2 separate regions of the Homo sapiens genome follow, and region 1 is linked to region 2. Evidence: fine-mapped expression QTL. A gene starts in region 2. The other region holds a variant in brackets. All regions are shown on one strand. Distances are from middle to middle. Region 1 has its middle 40 kb from the start of TSPAN13. Region 2 holds the start of TSPAN13 (tetraspanin 13).

Region 1 (5,385 bases), 40 kb before region 2:
ACCTTAAAAATTATCATAAATCTATATCATGAAACAAATTTTTTTTTTTTTTGCTGTGAAACAAATTGCCCTAACATTTAGCAGCTTTAGACAATAAACATTTTTTAAACATTTTTTCTGCCATAGTTTCTGTAGGTCAGGAATCTGGAAGCAGCTAAGCAGGGTGGTCCCATGATATGCATTTCTAATCTATGACTCGAACAGTTTTAGAATACTACTTGACATTTTCTAGCACGAAGTATTTTTCCCAAACAAAACTTGAGATAGCGATTTTAAGTTAAGGTAAACTAAAAAAGATGTTAATAATATATTGTTCAAGGAAAAATGCAAGTTTTAAAGAATGTTTTTTTCATCAAAAAAGTTATGTGTATGTATACCTTACCCTTATAAATACATAAAAGAGAAAATATTATCTAATAATTGTTATAAATGTTATTTCTGCATGTATCTTGGACAGTGATGGGACGAAGAAAGGGAAATAATAATTTTTCTTTTTACTCTTCACACCTATTTAGATTTCTTTAGAGTATCTGATACATTCATAATTTTAAAATTAATGTGCTTATTCTATATTATTTTTATATCCTGCTCCTTAATCATACTCTGTATTTTTACAATATCAATAACTATTCTTCAAAAACATGATTTTTGAACATGTCATTGTTCTTGGTCCAGAAGGGTCACAATTTATTTAATTATTCCAGAATTCTGTATAAGGTATCTTTAACTTTTTGCTTTTAAAAACTAGCATTTAAAATATACCTTTATATAAATTTTTCTTCATCTATGGTTATTTAGAAAAAACATGGAATTTGGCTTAAAGGGTTTGAACATTTTAACACAATGTGATGTCACTTTCTGGATTTGCATGTATACTTTTAAATACATTTTACTCCCATTTTGGGCATAGTTCAAGGCAGTATCATTTCAGTAAGAAATTTAAAATTATGTTAGTGTCTAAAAATAGAACGCTACACTTCGAAACTTCTGGAATTCAGCAGTTTCCAATTTGCAAAATTTTGTTGGGGTAGAGGGAAATAAAAATCTTTCATTTGCAAACCAAGAAACCAACAATCGTGAAACATATCATGTCTTGCATAGTCATAGAATTGTTTGGCTTGAGACAATGTGCGTCCCATTACTAATTTCTAAAACACCTCCCAGCTCATGCTGATTCAGTGTTTCTGACCACATCTTCTCTGAACTAATGGTAATTATTTCCTTTCTGCTCTCTGTACTTTTGAGAAATGATAGACTTCAAAGTCCCTCCTGGTATACCCTACACCCGGTATATACCTTGGTACACCTTTTCTTGTGGAATAAATGGGTGTAAAATGTTTCTTCCACATAAAACACCTTTTTAGAACTAATCTTTGCATGATTGAAACCTTTACATCTTGGTTTTATGTGCGTTTTAACTATTTTATTGACATACAACATATAGAAAAGTGCATCTAAGTCTTTGGCTTGAATGGAAATAGCACACCTGGGTAATCAGCGATCCAGTGAAGAAATTGAACGTTAGCCTCCTCCTACCTCTCCCAACCCCAGCCTCCACCCAAGAAATCATGATCCTGGATTATTTTTGCCTGTGTTTGAAATGGATGCATTTAATATTATTTTGTTAATGTCTTCTTTTACTCAACCTTGTTTTACCTTTTTTGTTGTTCTTTGTGTTTAGTTGTTTTCTGGTGTGTGATTAAGTAGCCACAGTTGACCTAGCAACAATAATGCCCAGCTCCTTCAGCAGGAACAGGTGAAATGAGAACATTATTTTTTAATGAGCCTGAATGTTGCACTATGTTCTTGGCAGAGAATAATTTCTAGGTACATATCTGTTTTTCAGAGATAATCTTTGGAGCACATGGTTTTCCTCATCATAAAAAAAAAAAATCATCCGTGTCTTCTCTGGAAAAGTAGTCACATCTTTATGGGCAAGATAGATTTTTTTTAATGAAATCATAAACGACTGTGGCTTCAGTCCTTTGGACTTCTTCCCACATTTGACTTTTGCTGCTGTTGTAAGTGAAGGGGTAGAGATAGGAACTTGGAATTGATTGGCTTGAGTGCGAAGACCCCATTCTGCCATTTAATTTGCTGTTAAACTAATTAGCTAGTCACTTAACTCTTGGTATTTACTTTGCTTAATTGTAAAAATAAGAGCTTGGACAGGATTCAGCCTTGAACCAATAGTGTGAGCCACCCAAAGTAATCTGCAAAACTCTGTTTTCATCAGATAGTCAGTGGTCTGTGACCTAAGGAAAGTAAAATATGACTGGGCTACCTTGCTGATCCTCAAACTTCAGCATGCATCAGGATCACCCAAGGGTTTGTTACAGTTGATTGCACCCCTGCCAG[C/T]CTGTGTCTGACTCAGTAGGGCTGGGGTCTAAGGATTTGCATTTCTAACAAGTTCCCGGATGACACTATTCTGTGTCAGAACCACACTTGGAGAACTGCGGGGCCGAATGGTTACTAAGCTCCATTTCTGTGCTGACTTTCTGAAGTCCGTTATGTCTTCAGTTAAGGAGACAGATTGTATTTTGTTCAACTCTGTATCTGCAATTGCCATATAGCGTAGCACATAGCTTGGCAGGAAGTTGGTGTCCCGTAAAGTTCGAATGTCTAAGTGAGTGAATGTGCGTTAAGAAGAATACCTTTTTAGGCCAAAGGTGGTGGCTCACGCCTGTAATCCCAGCACTTTGGGAGGCTGAGGCGGGCGGATCACAAGGTCAGGATATCGAGACCAGCCTGGCTAACATGATGAAACTCTGTCTCTCTTAAAAATACAAAAAATTAGCCGGGTGTGGTGGCGGTTGCCCGTGGTCCCAGCTACTCGACAGGCTGAGGCAGGAGAATAGTGTGAACCTGGGAGGCAGAGCTTGCAGTGAGCCGAGATTGCGCCACTGCACTCCAGCCTGGGTGACAGAGTAAGACTCCGCCTCAAAAAAAAAAAAAAAAAAAAAAAAAAAAGAAATCCTTTTTAAAGAGTTGATCAAAAATTCATCCTAAATTTTTCCTATACCTTCTTTAACAAGTTCAGCATTGGAGCCACAGCCTGACTGCTACTTCATGAGAATTTGGATTAATGCACTAAACAACGACACATCATTATTGATTGTGTCATTCCCTGGAACAGAGCCAATACACTGTGGGCCCATAATTTATTTATAAAATACTCCTGACACTTTCTCTTATTATTTGTTTTCAAAGGAAGCAAAAAGAACTTTACTGTGAGGATTGTCTAACCAGGCTCTGTAACAATGCCAATTATTCTTTTTTAAAAGTTGTTACAAATTTTTATATATTTAGGGAGTACAAGTGCAGATTTCTTAGGTGCATAGATTGTACAGTGGTGAAGTCTGGGCTTTTAGTGTACTCACTACCCAAATAGCATACATTGTACCCGACAGGCAATTTCTCACCCCTCAGTCCCACCCCTGCCTTTCGTAGTCTCCAGTGTCTATTCTTCTACTCTATGTCCCTGTGTGCCCATTGTTTAGCTCTCACTTGTGAAAGTGAAAACATGTGATATTTGACTTTCTGCTTCTGAGGGTTTTTTCCCATAAAATCCTAAAGTTTTTTTTTACTTTTTAAGTATTTTCAAGTATTTTTATTTTGTATTTTTAAAAATACTTTTCAGCTGGGCACAGTGGCTCACGCCTATAATCCCAGCACTTTGGGAAGCCGAGGTGGGTGGATCCCCTGAGATCAGGAGTTTGAGACCAGCCTGGCCAACATGGTGAAACCCCGTCTCTACTAAAAATACAAAAATTAGCCAGTGTGGTGGCTCACACCTGTGGTCCCAGCTACTTGGGAGGCTGAGGCAGGAGAATAGCCTGAACCCGGAAGGCAGAAGTTGCAGTGAGCCAAGATAGAGCCATTGTACTCCACTCTGGGTGATAGAGCCAGACTCTGTCTCAAAATAAAAAAATAAAATGAAATAAAATAAAACACTTTTAAAGTATTTTAAGAGGCACAGGAGAGTGGGAAATGTCTCAATTCAAATAGTCTTGATTTTTTTATTATTATTATTTTTTAGTCCCCAGGGAAGAAGCAGTCCTTGATGTTTTACAACCAACTAAATCCTTTGAGGAATCTTAGACCTTTTCGTAGCATTATCTTTTCTTTTTAGCAGGAAATCCTCATGGTTTTCTGAGTGTAGTCTCCAGACTGGCAGCATTGATATTCCCTGGGGGCTAGCTGGACATGAAGACTGTCAGGATCCCCCCAAGACATGCAAAATCAGAAACTCTGGGGGTGGACTGAGCAATCTATTTTGACAAGCCCTCCTGGTGATTTGGATGCAAGCTTGGGCTTAGGAACACTGACCTAACCCAAACTTCAGGTGTCAAAACATCTTGGAACACATTCCCAAGGGGACATAAGGGCAAGCAGACAAGAACTGAGGCAGGACCAGGCTTTGGCACAGGATAAGGGATTAGTGAGATGGTAGATTTCATTTTTCCTGAAAGCTGATTAAAACTGGCAAATATCTCTGGAGAAAGATGTCCTGGCATCCTTCAGTGGGTTTTACCTGATGTAAGAGGATAGAAGATGTTAGTGCCCTATAGCCGTATGACAGCTAATCTGAACTCATTCCCAAGTGTGTGGGAACACAGTGAAAAGTATAGTCCTAAAACTGGTCTTTCTTGATTTTTTTATCTTAGTGAGCAATAAAGTGAAAATGTATTTGTTTTTTTTTTCTTTTTTCCAGTGTGCTCACCAACAATTACAACCAAACAACAATTTTTGTTGTAGTACCAAAAAACAACTTTTCTAAATACAAGGAAATCTAAGAGATGACTATTTACAACATATCTAAAACTTTCAGAGAATAGAGAGTAACACAGGTGCTACAGAGTAGGGAAAGATGAATTTTCTGTGTATATGCTTCTAGCAGCCTAGATAGGAGAGTACCAGGCTAACTAGCTTGCAACAAAGGATTTTAAAATTCTGATGCTGAGGATAAAATAGCAGATGAGATATTTGATCATGTATCTTGCTTTGGACCAACCTTAAAGTTTTTTCATGGATTTTAGAAAAACTGTTCACTTTGGCCTCTAGCGTTTTGTTCAAATCACAACCTGTTTCACGTCATAACTTGTACCTGCTAAATGGCTTTGAAATATTTTGAGCAATGACAATGGCCAATGAATTATTTACGAGTGCATTGTATAATTTTCATATATTTGAGTTTTAAAATATGTGGTTTTAATTACTTTCTAGTTTAATTTCATTGTGGTAAGAGAACATAAATGGTAAGATTCCAAAGCTTTTAAATTTATTGAGACTTGTTTTATAGCCCAGCATATGGTCTATCTTGGTGAATATGCCATTTGCACTTGAAAACAATGTGTATTCTACAGTTGTTGGGTGGAGTGTTCT
Region 2 (5,385 bases):
TATATGTCTTGTTTTAAAAGAAAGCCCATGGGTTAGAGCTGGCAAATAGTTGCAGTCATTCTGTAGCTGGGGCTCTGGATTATAAACTGTCACATAGTCCAGGTAGGGGCAGTAGAAGATGGTTAAATAGTCATTTAGTTTCTCCTTATCCCTCTCAAAGGTAGTTTCTCCCTTCCACAGCCAGTCTATAAGAGATGAAAGTGACTATGAGTTTTTTTCCCCCTCTAATAATGTCTCATCACTTCTTGGATTTTAGTTCCTCTAGTGCCTTTAGCCCCTCAGTTCTTCGATAGTTTTTTGTTGTAAGTATGATTTGGTAGCTTATCTAGCTTGTTTTTACTTACTTTGAGACAGGGTCTTGGTCTGCACCCAGGCTGGAGTGCTGTGGCGCCATCATAGCTGACTGCAGCCTTGATCTCCTGGGCTCCAGCAATCCTTCCCCCTCAGGCTCCTGAGTAGCTGGGATAGCTGGGATTACAGGTATGCACCACCACACCCAGCTAATATTTTCAATTTTTAGTAGAGATGGGGTCTCACTATGTTGTCCAGACTGCTTGTTCTTATTAGGGTGGGAACAAATGGTCTTTTGAAAATTTCTATATCCAAATCAGGAGAAATTGCAACATGTCCATTTGTTTTCCTATTTTCAGACATTGTTTTGTTTCCTCTATCAAAAGCCGTATCTCCTATCAGACAACTCTCCTACAACTATAGCTCTTGCCTGGCTTCTGTAACTGTTCCCTTAAATCACCCCCTTAGTCTTAGGGGTAATTAGAACTTCCTGCTCTTACTATCTCTGAGCTGCCTCATCATGCTTTGTTGGTTTCCTTTTCTTTTTGAGACAGAATTTCACTCTGTCACCCAGGCTGGAGAGCAGTGGCGCGATCTTGGCTCACTGCAACCTCCACCTCCTGGGTTCAAGTGATTCTCCTGCCTCAGCCTCCCAAGTAGCTGGGATTACAGGTGCCCGCTACCACGCCTGGCTAATTTTTGTAGTTTTAGTAGAGACGGGGTTTCACCATGTTGGTCAGTCTGGTCTCAAACTCCTGACCTCAGGTGATCCACTACCCTCGGCCTCCCAAAGTGCTGGGATTACAGGTGTGAGCCACCGCACCCAGCCGGTTTCCTTTAACTTTGTCCACACTTTTGAAAATAGTCCCTTTTTGAAATTCTTCTCAGTTATGCTATTTGAACGAGTCATCTCCTTTTTGCTGGGACCCTGACTGATAGGTGGTACTTCTCTGGGAAAACAAAGTGATTCAGCCTATAGGGAGATAGTGAAGATATTATGCAGAAGCCAAAGAGAGAGTTGCAATAGTTGGTTGAGTGATAGTTGAAGTGGTACTAATGTTGGTGACACCCAGGAATGGGAAGAGAATGAATAGATTTCCCTGCCAATGCCTCATCTTTTGTAAACCTCTGGCTATTAAAAAGGAAAGTTGAGCATCATCAAAGCATTGTTTGTGTTTGAGGATCATTTTCCAGGTTAGTTTTTGAAATATTTCTAGCTGTATATAAAAGGTTAATGTGGAATAGAAAGCCTAACAAATTAATGAGGTCTTGTTGGTATGGTGGGGTCAGGGGAGGGAAGGAGAGGCTGGAAGAGGGAGCAGAGAATTCTAAGAAGACGAATTATTTTAATCAGCTGCAATGTTTAATTTAATTTAATACAATTTAGCATTTGCAATTACATAATTTACTCCGTATGAACCTTTAGGTTAGATATAGTATTGTAAACTTGCAAATCTCTTTATAAAACCTTTTTCTTTGGTAGAAACTACTATGAAGTAAATAAACCTTTATTGCCTTCGCTTAGTGCCTGGAACACAGTAGGCCTTTACAAAATGTCAGATCTATGAATACTAGCTGACATTTATTGAGGCCTTCCCCTGTGCCAGCCACTATGCAAAAAGTGCTTGACATACTTCTAAAATCTCAATTTATAGGTGAGGAATTAAGGATACAAGATGCATTTCTATAGTAGAGAAGCAGTAAACTGATAATGAATTAATTGAGGTGAAGTCTGAGTTATTTGAAGATTTTCAGTTATTTTTGTGAAAAAATAAGTTTATTGAAATTCACGACCAGAACACAAAAATAATCTCTCTTGATTTTCTTTTTAAAATTTTTTAAAAAACTTTTGTTGACACGTAGCAGATGTATATATTTACGGGGTACATGAGATGTTTTGATACAGGCATGCAATGTGAAATAAGCACATCACGGAGAATAGGGTATCCATCCTCTGAAACATTTATCCTTTGAGTTACAAACAATCCAATTACATTCTTTAAGTTATTTTAAAATACACAATTAAGTTCTTATTAACGATTGTCACTTTATTGTGCTATCAAATAGTAGGTCTTATTCATTCTTTCTATTTTTTTGGACCTATTAACCATCCCCACCTTCTCCCGCTCTTGATTTTCCTTTGCATGCATGTATTCATAAAGTTTATTAGTATTTTGCAAATCTTTGTAGGATAAGTCTGACCTGTCCAGGTCACAATTATAGGGCACATATCTTATTTTCTGAGAGAAGCAGGGATTTTATTTTATTTTTTATTGTTTCACTTATTTTCTCCCTTTCATTTGCCTCTACTTCGTTCTCTTTTAAATCTTTCACATGTTTTCATTCATTACTTGCTTCCTGCCTTCCTTCCCTCAAACAAGGCCAGGTGCTTAGTTTTGAAATCTCATTCAAAATGGTGCCACGTCATCTGCCAGGGCCAAGAATCCAGAGGTGCTGTCATATTTCTCCTTGCCAGCGTGGATCTCCTCCGAGCCCCGCCCTCCCTCCTCACCTGCTCCTGGGGAAACTACACCAAGGCCGCCGCTCTGGCCTGGGGCTCCCTCCCACACGGCCTTGGCCCTCTCCCCCTCGCCCCGGGACCGCTCCGCCCCTCCCGGATCCCGGTCGGCGGAGCGCATTTATTTGCATATTTCTACCTTTGTTCCCTGCCAGCGGCCAATCAGCGCGCGGGGCGAGACGAAGGGGCTGGGCGGGGCTCGGGCTCCTGCTCCGGCTCAGCTGCGGCGGCCGCAGGTTCCAAAGCGGGTCCGAGCCGCCGCCGCGCGCGCGCCGCGCACTGCAGCCCCAGGCCCCGGCCCCCCACCCACGTCTGCGTTGCTGCCCCGCCTGGGCCAGGCCCCAAAGGCAAGGACAAAGCAGCTGTCAGGGAACCTCCGCCGGAGTCGAATTTACGTGCAGCTGCCGGCAACCACAGGTTCCAAGATGGTTTGCGGGGGCTTCGCGTGTTCCAAGAACTGCCTGTGCGCCCTCAACCTGCTTTACACCGTGAGTATCCCCAGTCCGTTCCTGCTCGCTTGGGGGCTTTGCACCTGCTTGGGAGCTCTTTGGCTTCCCTGCCTGGTCAGCGACTCACTCGTTGCATCCCGCGCCCCCTTCCCGGCTTCCCACGTCTGCGCGCCCCCGGCCTCACCATCCGTCCCCGCCGGGGACCGGGCGCCGGCGCTTGTCGCAGTCTCTTCCTTTCGTTCATTGTGAAGCCGCGGTCTCTCAGGCTCGCTGGCCGCGTCTCTGCCACATTGCTCCACCCCGCCCCCTCACCCACCGCCTTGTTTTTCAAACATTCAACCGGACCTCTCCGCTTTCCCACCCCGTACCCTTCTGCCGCTCGCTCCTGACATCCAGACGCATCTGGGCCAGGCGTGGAGGCGCGAGAGCCGTCAGGGCTTGCGGACAGTTTTGCGGAATGGCGTGGCCTGAAACTGACGAGGCGGCATATGGCTGGTGTGCCTCTGGGTTAGCTCTTGGTACCCTCGGGATTTTAATTGAGGCCACTGAGTAGGTTCACAGGATGTCCGCTGCTTCCGAAGTTTGTTTCGTGCTCACAGTAAAGGGATGTCTTTTTGTTTTTGTTGTTGTCAGTTTTGCTAGTACTTGGTGCTTTTTCTGTGTGTCTTGTCCATGATCAATATCCTAACTCCATTTTAAACCAAGTCCTCCAGGAAATAAGCGAGCCCCCACCCAAGTCGTTTCTTTCCCTGCCAACCAGCTTGGGCCTCTTAGTTTTAACGCTGCAGGCTCTCTTTGTGATTTTTTGAGGCGCAATTCTGGGTGAACAGGAGGATGGGCAGGACAGATCGACATTTATTGAATGCCTATCACGTCCCAGGTTTTACATACACAATGCTCGTTCATCATTCTGACAACCTTCTGAGGGAATGGGGCATTATCTGCATTTTATACATAAGGTAACAGACCAAAAAGGTTTTAGTAAGTTTACATAGCTGGTAGTTGACGAGTCAGGAGTGGAACCTAGGCTGTGGAATCCAGATCTTTCCACAGGCTGTCTCTACCGGGCGGAAGAAACTTCCTCTTCTGTCATCATCCCTCCATAGTAGTCTTGCTCCCTTCTATAAATATACCTGGCGCTTTGCAGCACCCACCCTGAAAACAAACCCAGCACCCCTGCATTAGCAGAGAGCTAGGCCATCTGTGCAAGCTTAGATTACCTCCTTGGAATAGAGAGGCTGCCTTGTGGTCACCAACAGGAGAAGGAGGTTGGGTCATTTTACCTTTACTGTTCCTTTGTATGTGAACATGACTGCAAGCTTTGAAGGCAAGACAGAAACAGGCATTGAGTACGCTTTTATGGCTAGTTAGTAAGAATCTGGTCAACATGGTCATTAATAGTAGACTTGGGAAAAAAATTTTAGAACACCTGGTGATACAGTTCCTTGGAGATACATGTCAAGTTTCAGATCAAAATTCATCTGTATCACCCTGAGGTATGCTTATCACCCTGGCTGTTTATTAAGTAAATGCTGACCAGTTCTCTAGGGTTTTTTTTTTTTTTTTTAAATCAGTGTGAGTGGCCTGCTTGGAACTTTAAATTCCTTATTTTGTGACCTGAGTTCTGTTTTTTTTCTGCCAATGATTTAGTCATCTGTTTGCCAGACACTTAGTCTTACAGTGCCTGCTTACACAGAGTGGAATGTCTACTTTGCATACTTACTTCACTGAAGGGTCTATATCAATGTATAATCTTTTTTAAAAAGGCAAGTTATTTTAAAATGAAGTTCCTTGCTTTCTAGACATCATTTTTAGTTGTATTTAGAGTATATCAGGAAAGTGAGGCGAAAGAAAGGTGATTCTAAAGGGACATATTAAGACTATTTAATATCTATTCTAAATTATTGACCTTCAAAGTGTGTGTTCTATTGATTTTAATAGCTATGCAGTAAAACTTAATGAATTGGAAATTCACGGGACAATAAAAATGGCTAGCCCTTTTAAATCATAGACTTTTTAGACAAAGGGACATTTCTTAAAATGAATTAGTGGCTGCTTGCTTCTTTTACATTGTAAATAGGCTTAAATAACTGCAGCAGTTTAAAGTGGAGGCAAGTGACAGGTAAA

Evidence for each region. PIP is the estimated chance that this variant, and not a neighbour inherited with it, causes the effect. A credible set is the group of variants that fine-mapping cannot tell apart.
Region 1: its variant is the best candidate, but not a certain one, in a credible set for the expression of TSPAN13 in whole blood (INTERVAL, PIP 0.71).

Annotation. Positions count from the first base shown.
Region 1 is chr7:16,710,759-16,716,143 of GRCh38, forward strand. No RefSeq gene overlaps it. Among named protein-coding and RNA genes, the nearest start is that of TSPAN13, 40 kb to the right of the region's middle. The variant C/T (reference allele first, on the strand shown) is at 2,359.
Region 2 is chr7:16,750,734-16,756,118 of GRCh38, forward strand. TSPAN13 (tetraspanin 13) reads left to right here and starts at 3,022. Exons shown (of 6, transcript NM_014399.4): 1 at 3,022-3,297. The coding sequence starts at 3,235.